3 separate regions of the Homo sapiens genome follow, and regions 1 and 2 are each linked to region 3. The links come from fine-mapping of genetic effects on gene expression. A gene starts in region 3. Each other region holds a variant in brackets. All regions are shown on one strand. Distances are from middle to middle.

Region 1 (2,739 bases), 54 kb after region 3:
GTGAACAGGAATTCTCTGTACTAATTTTGTAACACAGTCTGAAATTATTTCCAAATGAAAAATTAAAATTAAATTTCAGGTTCCTCGGGGAGATTCCGTTGGCAGAGGTCATCACCCTTACTGAGATGAAAAAGCTGAGACAGAGAGGTCAGGGGGCTTGCCCTGAGTCCCTGAGGGAGTCAGGGACCAAGCTGGTGACTGCCCAAGTCTCTGGGTCCTCATTCAGGCGGCTGAGGGGGAGGGGTGGTAGGAGCGAGCTCTGCCACACCAAGAACAAGGGCGCCTTTGGCTGGTCTTGTGGTGGGCAGAGCCGTGGACGCTCAGGCCAAGAGGCCAAGCATTGTGAGGAGACAGCTGTGCTGGGAGCCAAGCCTGTTGGGGATGCAGCCTCAGGTTCAAAAGGGACATTGTTCATCCCCTATCCTGCGCCTGGGCACTACCGGGCTGGGTCTGGTCCTCCCAGAGGCCCACAAGTCACGGGTCCCAGGGCCTGGTCCCTGGAGCAGCCCCAGGCTCACCCAGAGGTCAGGCTGAGGATCACCGATCTGCTGGCCACACAACCACTCACCCAGACAACACTGCTGCCACTCAAGGCTTGTGGCCGCGGCACCTCGTCCATGTTGGTGGTGTTGGCGCTGACCGTGGACAGCGGGGCCTTAGCTGTCTCCTCTAAGTCCAGCAGGTTCCCAGTGGCGACCACTGTGAGGGATCCGGTCAGGTTGTCAGTGGGAGATCAGCCTCTTCCTTCCTGGCCCCCTCCCTGGGCTGTCCTGGCCCTGACCCTCCCCTCTGATGTGGCCTTGCCCAGGCCTCCCAGCAGAGCCCGGCCCTGGCACCTCCCCACAGCAGATGCGCAGCTGCCCACAGAGTGAGAACCTGACTAATGGCTTAGACTGAAACTTTTGTATTCACAATAGTTAAGTTTTCTTAAGCAACCACACAATACTATGTTAAGTATATAGAAAGATAGACGCATATTTATATATTTGCATAGGGACATATCTAGAAGAAAATGTACTAAAATGAGTTATTTCTTCCCCTTATCTACATTTTCTAATTGATCTGTAATGAACGTGTATTATTTATTTAACAAAACACAAGTGAAAAACCAAGAGGCTCTCCCAGCCCAGGCAGGAGTGGGACCCCCCTGGGTGAAGCGCAACCCCAACACCGCATGG[C/T]CAATCCCCCTTCCCCGTCAGGACTCACAGCTCTTCAAGGAGGGGGTGCAGTCTTGGCGGGCCCCCAGGACGTCCCCTCCCTCTTGGCTGGCTTTGTCCCTCTTCTCTTTCTCTGCAGGACCAAGGCACAACATGTTGGAGCCTCAGACCCCAGCACTCTGTCCCCAGCAATCACCGGGCAGGGGTGATTAGCGGTGGCCAACCTCAAGGGGCAGTTTCAGGTTTCCAGCCGGGAGGAAAGAAACCTTTCGGATGTCAGTTAATCCTCACAAGCACCTTTGGGGAGGGAGACGGCTGTTCCCATTTTTCAGATGGGAAAACCGAGACTCTGAGCGGTGAAGGGACCTGCTCACAGTCACAAGCCAGGTGGGTGATGAGGCAGGAAGTCGGTCCAGGTCTGACCCCAGGGCCTTTATGTGTCTCCCCACCTCCCACCACACCCACAATGTAGATGCAAAGTCTCACCTTCCTTGGACACCTGCCAAAACTCAAAGGCGACTTTGAAGGCCTGGGCTACGGTGAGGGTAACAGCCTGTGCCTGAAAACAGGAAGTGGGGATGGGGAGGGGTGCAGTGTCAGCCAGGGCAGAGCAAGTCTGCACTGGAGGGCTGGGGCCTCCAGGCCAGGCCCCCTGGCTCCCTCCCTGCAGCTTCTGCAGCTCCATCCCAGGCTCTGGAATGCCTGCTGGGCAGAGCAGGGTCCTGGCCCTTCCCAGGTCTCCAAAGCAGCCTGGGGTGTCATAAGGCCATAGCCTCGCAGAGGCAGTAGAGTCCCCATCTTTACTATCTCTGGCCCCACCAAAGTTCTCACTCTCACTCTAGGGCCCCTGCCTGCAAAGGCTGTTCTTCTCCAGGTCTTTTCCTTCCCCTTTGGGCTTCCCTGAATTCAATGAACTGTGAGGCTTACTTCCTCCAAGAAACCCTCCCTAATTACCTGTGGACTTAGCCCTTGGAATTGGAGAACAGAAAAGCCAGAATTGGAAGGGCCCAGCCATTGCCCCAAATGAGCCACAGCCAGAGAGGTGAAAGTTAGGTTCCGGTTGGGACCATAACTGGATCCCACAAAGAGAGTAGAAGGCTTGTCAATTTCCTGATAGGAGCAAGATGTCAATGAAGGCCCGGGGACCAAAACCGGTCAGTGCTATAACCCACCTGTAAGGAAGGGCCACACCTCGGCCCTTCACCCCAGGGGAACTCTCCCTCACCCCTCCAAACCCAACTCAGATGTCACCACCTCTCCTGTCACCAGTCCCAGACTCCTCGAGCCCCACCCACCTCCCTCTGGCACTATGCATGTGAAAGTGTCACTGGCTCCCCTGCCTGTGTTTCCCCCAGCTTTGTGCACCCTAAAAGCAAGAATCAATCTGAACACCCCTGCCCTCGGGAGCAGGCCAAAGCCTCCCAGAGGTGGCAACAATGCTGGGTGAATTACATTCACCTGAGGTGCAGGCCTCATTCCACCCAGGACCTATCCCCAGCCCATATTCATCTCAACACCTTCCTCTCTCAGCCATTCCAGTCCAGGGTTAATCAGCTCAGCTTCTGGGAGTGGAAGTCCCAGA
Region 2 (2,750 bases), 160 kb before region 3:
GTGAGGAAGTGGGATGGCCAACTTCCATGGCATGAAATCGAGGAGGGCACAGCAGCCACACTGCAGAGGCCACAGGAGGGAAAGTCAATGCCAGCAACCAGCACTGACATCATCATCGTTAACCCTATCCCATTTTACACACGAGGACGCGGTTCCCAGAACGGAAGCAACCTGGGGAGATAAGCGAGAAACTGAAGGAACCTGCGGTATCACACGGTGCGTCCCTAGGGAACTTGGATTCTAGCCCAGTCTCACTCTCCGAGAAAGCGGCCTGGCCCAAGGCTCACACCTGGGGTGCAGCCCTCTGGATCCCAAGCCCTTCACCCCTTTTGGGCTCCCGTCCTGTGACCACAGAACCTGACTGTGGAGGGGAGGGACTGCGGACCCCTACCCTCAACCTCCCACCTGTCCATCCCTAGGAAGAGCCCACACTGCTCACTTTAGTGTCTCCGCTAGAAAGAAGCTCTGCTGCTTGTTGTCGTGGTTGGGGGTGCTACTGTACACGTCTTGGATCCCAGAGAAACCGGCTTCTGTCCGACAGTATTTCTCCAAGGCCTGAGGAAGGGGAAGAGGAGGAGGAAAACAGCCTTAACACGGGACAGGAAAGGCCCCTCAAGACTTGTGCATGCCTGGCAGGCTGGAGCTAGAAGAAAGCAGACAGCACCCCCACCCCTTGGCTGGGGACTCCTGGCATTTGTGGGAACAGAAGGTCAAATTATTCTTTCGGGGTTTAGCCACCTGTCCCCAGGCTGGAGGGGCCACACTCCTTCCACCCACACCTCTGAGAGCTCTGGCCCGATGGGCTGCCTGTCCTGAGCTCTTCACCTGGTTTGAACTTAGAGGAAGCTTCTCTTTGTGTTTCAGGGGACTAGGCTGGTCTTACAGATTCACCCACAGTGGTAGGCAGAGGTGAAGAGAAGCCACGGGTGATGGCCATGGGCTGGGATTTGGGGACGGACTTGGTACTCCAGGGATTCTCAGGAGAGATGGCCCCTGGGCTGGAGGCAAGTGAGCCAAGCCATTCATCTTTCTATATAAATGCATTTTTTTTTCTTGAGACAAGGTCTCATTTTGTCGCCCAGGCTGGAGGGCAGTGGGGCGATCAGAGCTCACTCTGCAGCTTCAACCTCTGCAGTTCGAGCAATCCTCTTGCCTCAGCCCCTCAAGCAGCTGGGACTATAGGCGTGCGTCACCATGCCTGGATAATTTTTGTATTTTTCTGTATAGATGGGGTTT[T/C]GCCGTGTTGCCTATAGGCTGATAAATACAATTTCTACCCACGGAGGGGGTCTATGGACTGGGCATAGGAGCACAAGACGCTTGGCCTTTGAAGGCCAAGAACAATGGTCCTGGGGAAGCAGGTGGACTTAACAGGGCCAGTAAACCTGAGCATGCCCTGGACCCCGTCTGAGTGCAATGCTCGGAATGGGCACGGGGGTGGTGGGGGAGATAGGGGCAGAGAAGGCTCAGCATCCACCAGGGAACCTGCTGGAATCCCCACACCTGCCTTTGACACCTCCCCCAAGACAGCCATTAAATTTCCACCTAGGTGTGGGGCCGGAGGCTGAGGGCAGGGTAGGCCTCAAGGGCCAGTAGAGACTAGGGTGGGGGGGTCCCTCAGGCTGGGCTGCCTGTGGGAAGAGGAGGGAGGTGGAGGTGAGCTGCCCAGCTTCGAGATCAGGAAAGCGTCTGTTGGGACAGCGGTGGCCGCGTGGTGCCTGCGTGGTGCTCTAGGCAGCTGCCTAGCCTCTGACCCTCTAAGTTTGCTGAGGCCTGGTCCCAGGCCCCAAGGATATGGGCACTCAGAACCCTCTTCACAAGTCTGGCCTGTCCTGTCTCAGGACAACTTTGCCCAGCTGGGGACTCTTGGCTCTGTAACCACCACCTTGACCCTTTGCACTCTGAACTGTGGTCAGAGGTCAACGTGGCTTGGCCTTCCACTCCAGGCCCAAGCCAGGGCACCTAGCACCCAGCCTGTAAATTCTCAGGGGCATCTAGCACCTTGCTGCCCATCCCTGGGGCCCACTCACCAGCACCACCTCCCAGCCCCACTCCCTGTAGATGGGGTTGTGGGTCTGTCGCCACAGGTACATGTAGCTCTCCACCACCTCTGGCCGGAGGATGTAGTAGCTCTCGCTCAGCTGGGTGGCCACGGCCTCTCTGCCGGAGTTAAACCAGAAGGCCTCAGGCCCAAGTTTGGTGTCTGGGGAAACAGCCAAGCAGAGGGCCCAGGTCAGACCTCCCACCTCCTGCTTTTCGGGATCCAGGAGAGATGTCAGTTGCCTTGAACCCGCGGCCAGGGTGATGTCAGGTGTGTGTGGGTGTGGGGTGCCCCTGCCTGGACTGCTGTGTAAGGCTGCACCGGGCAGATGCACAGCTTCCCTCTTGGCCTGGGCTGGACAGAACAAGACCCTCGGGGACTGGAAATGTGAGCAGCTTTGGACTCTGAGAGTCCAAATGAGCTACTCAGCAGTCTGGGTAGGTGAAGGTTTGGGCGGGGTTCCACAACTGTGTACTTTGAGGCAATAGCTCTGCAAGAGGTTAGCCAGACCTCAGCCAAGAGGGTTTCGGGTTTCAACACATCTGGGGAACCGAGGGTTAAACAAAATAAGTCTCCCATCTGCAGGATTTATCAGATCCTTTAATATGCTAATGTGAAATGAGGCTTCTCCTTGGGACCCTTTGTCTTAGAAAACTGCTTTTAACACCTCCCAGAACAAACTTCGAGAGTTTGGGAACAGCTGAGGTAGAGA
Region 3 (2,750 bases):
GGAGTTTGGGGGCTGAGTCCATACCTCCTTGATTTTCTCCCGCTGGGCTCGCACTTGGCTCTGGGGCTCCTGACTCTCATCGGCCCTCGTTCCCAGGACCGGGTGGCGGAGACGGCTCCGGAATGCGTTGAAGTCAAAGCGGAAAGGGACGCCCTCGTCCCCGGGCCTGGAGGCCGGGATGCTATTGCCCCGGGCCGCCGTGGCCTCCTCGCGGGGTCCAGTGGGGCGGGTGCGCCGCAGCCCCCCTTTCCTGCGGCGGGGACTGGCCCAGCTGCTGGGGTCATCCTCGCCCGGGGCCGGCGCGGCGGGGGCCGGGTTGGGAGGCGGCTCCTGCTCGCGGGCCGGGGCATGGCCGGCGATTTCAGCCACCACTTCCAGACCAGGCTGCTGGGTCCGGGGGGCCAGGAAGAGGCGCTTGAGGCGAGAGGAGTGGGGCAGCAGGAAGAGGGCCCCGAAGCACAGGGTGACCAGGCCCGAGAGGAAGAGGAGGAAGAGGAACTTCTGCGGCAGCCGCAGCCCCCACGGGGAGGCCGGGACGAAGCCGGGCACTTTCCTCATGAGCATCGTGGCCCGGCCGGTGGCTCCAGAAGCCCTCGGAGTCCAGGCACGTGTCTGCGGGGGCGCGGTGAGGGGAGGGCGTCCGGAGCGCCGCCCGGGATGGGGGTCCCTGGGCAGGGTTGCCAACCCTGAGAGTTTCGCCGCTTCGGGGGACTGTCCCCGAAGTTCAGGGAGTTTGGAGCGAGTCCTCCCGCGAGGAGGCGGGGGCGCAGCGGCCTCGGCGGGGCCCGGGCGAGCGGAGCGGCACGGCTTGGGGCCCGGGCCCGCAGCGACCGGCCGCGCGCCGCAGCCTCCCCTCCGGCCGAGCCCTCCCCGCCGCGCCGGGGCCCGCGCCTTCCCGCGCTGCGGCCGCCGGGACCGTCACATGCCGTCCGCGGCGTCCCGGCTGTCCGCGCCGAGGGGCGCCCGCAGGCCCGCACCAAGCCGCCCTCCGCCCCCTAGGCTCCCGCCCGCGCTGGTAGGCGCCCAAAGTTTCAGCTTCAGAAGCAGTTTCCGGAGGGGACCGAGGCGATGGGGGGCTGGCGTGTCAGCGCCGCCCCGAGCGCGCGCACACCCGGCCCGGTCGCGACAGCGCCCGGGCTCGACTATCGGGACACGTCCACAACTTTCTCCGCCGCGGAGAGGGCGCCGGGAGCTGGGAGCCGGAGTGGCCAGGGAGCAGGAGCAGGCACTTCCGAGCCTGCGGGGGCAGGGGGCTTCCCCCGGGCCCCAGACAGCGCAGGGATGCCTGGGTCCGGAGCCGCGGCTGGGCGGCTGCAGATGCGCCCGGGAGCGCGGGCTCCCGCCCCTCGAACTCGGCAGGGCGCGGGGCTCCCACTGGGATCACCTGTTCCCGGCCCCGCCGGCTCCGCGGAGCGCGCAGCCCTGGCCGCGCCTCCCCCGCTGCAGCTGTCTTCCTCGCAGCGGCCGCTCCAGACCGGCCGCTGCCGCCGAGCCTGCGCCCCACACGCGCGCACAGCCACCCGGCCGCCTCCACCGCCGTCCCCGCCGCCGCCGCCGCTCGGGCTTTCACTGCGACAGCGCCCGCCGCCCCGCCTCCTGCCGCCCGCCGGCCACGCCCGCCGGCCACGCCCACGCGCGCGCCCCGCGCCCCCTCCCGCCGCCGCCGCGCCGCAGCCGGCTGAGGGCCGCGCGTCCGGGGGCGGGGCAGAGGCCGAGCGCGGGCGGGAGCGCAGCCCGCTCCAAGCCCCGCCCTCCCCGAAGGGCAGGCGTCGCGCGCACCCCCCATCCAGCGGGCGCCAATGGTCCAGCGGCGCGGGGCAGGCGAGGGCGGGGGCGGAGAGCGCAACGAGGGCATTGGCTGCATCCGAGGGATCCCCGTTGGGCCACAGTCGTCCATTGGTTACTGCCCAGCCTTCGCTGGACCCCAAGCGACAGAGACCACCCCCCAGCCCGCCCGCGAGGCTCGGGTTGGTGGCCCCCGGAAGCGGGCCGGAGACGGTGTTGCTCTGGAGGGGTGTGCCCGTCGCTGGGTGACCTCTCTCGCCCCCGAGTGCCAGCCCGGGGTTGTCAGGGAGCTGGCAGCCCGCGCCCTGGCGGCTGCCCCGGGCTTCTCAGCGCTAACGCCGGGCTGCAGGGGTGCTGCTGGTGGCTGGAGCCAAGCCAGAGAGCTGTGACCGCGGCCGGGTCGGCGGAGGTGATGTTTCCACTGGCCCCCTCGCAGACCACTGGCGTGCCTTCCTTTTCCCACAACCCTAAACGGGGCCAGGGCTCCTGGGTGGAGCACGGAGGGAGGCTGACCGCAGCCTTGAGAAGCAGCGAAAGGAAGAGAGCCCCGGGCGTGTCTACAGAAGACCACACACATAATGTGACGGACGTCTACCTTGATGCCTACGTGTGTTTATATGCACATGTGTGCGTCTGGGCATAGATCTATATGCACACAGAGACTGGCATGTGGGTGTGTACATGCACTCAAACATACACTTAATTTGGGTATGGACACCCAAGTGATTATACCACAGTATGCATAGACATATATGTAAATTAGTACAAACATGGACATGTGCACCCGCATACCCACAGACACTCAGGCAACAGATAACCTCCAAAAACAGCCAGGCATCAACTCCCAGACACGCGTGTCCTCAACCCCAAGGCCCTCACATCTTCCTCCTTGGACTTAGTCTCTGCATCTTCCCTTCCTGTTAAACCTAACCCAGGGTGAAGCAACATTGTGCTGTGTGGGTCTT

Which allele goes with the higher level. Positions count from the first base shown, and alleles are read on the strand shown. Sizes are in standard deviations (SD) of each study's normalised expression. Not every link is listed here.
In carriers of allele C in region 2, the expression in cerebellar hemisphere of the gene that starts at base 1,571 in region 3 tends to be lower than with T alone (small effect, 0.26 SD a copy in GTEx).

Evidence for each region. PIP is the estimated chance that this variant, and not a neighbour inherited with it, causes the effect. A credible set is the group of variants that fine-mapping cannot tell apart.
Region 1: its variant is the best candidate, but not a certain one, in a credible set for the expression of MAN1C1 in whole blood (TOPMed, PIP 0.65).
Region 2: its variant is the best candidate, but not a certain one, in a credible set for the expression of MAN1C1 in cerebellar hemisphere (GTEx, PIP 0.85).

What each region holds. Positions count from the first base shown.
Region 1 is chr1:25,561,621-25,564,359 of GRCh38, reverse strand. It overlaps LDLRAP1 (low density lipoprotein receptor adaptor protein 1), which reads right to left. Exons shown (of 9, transcript NM_015627.3): 5 at 1,644-1,716; 6 at 1,207-1,290; 7 at 569-699. Among named protein-coding and RNA genes, the nearest start is that of LDLRAP1, 19 kb to the right of the region's middle. RefSeq lists an enhancer at 489-1,116. The variant C/T (reference allele first, on the strand shown) is at 1,179.
Region 2 is chr1:25,780,390-25,783,139 of GRCh38, reverse strand. MAN1C1 (mannosidase alpha class 1C member 1) reads right to left here. Exons shown (of 12, transcript NM_020379.4): 10 at 2,028-2,200; 11 at 440-555. Among named protein-coding and RNA genes, the nearest start is that of SELENON, 18 kb to the left of the region's middle. RefSeq lists enhancers at 1,923-2,545, 2,546-2,750. The variant T/C (reference allele first, on the strand shown) is at 1,237.
Region 3 is chr1:25,615,612-25,618,361 of GRCh38, reverse strand. MAN1C1 (mannosidase alpha class 1C member 1) reads right to left here and starts at 1,571. Exons shown (of 12, transcript NM_020379.4): 1 at 25-1,571. The coding sequence starts at 564. RefSeq lists silencers at 1,346-1,635, 1,656-1,945 and an enhancer at 2,136-2,305.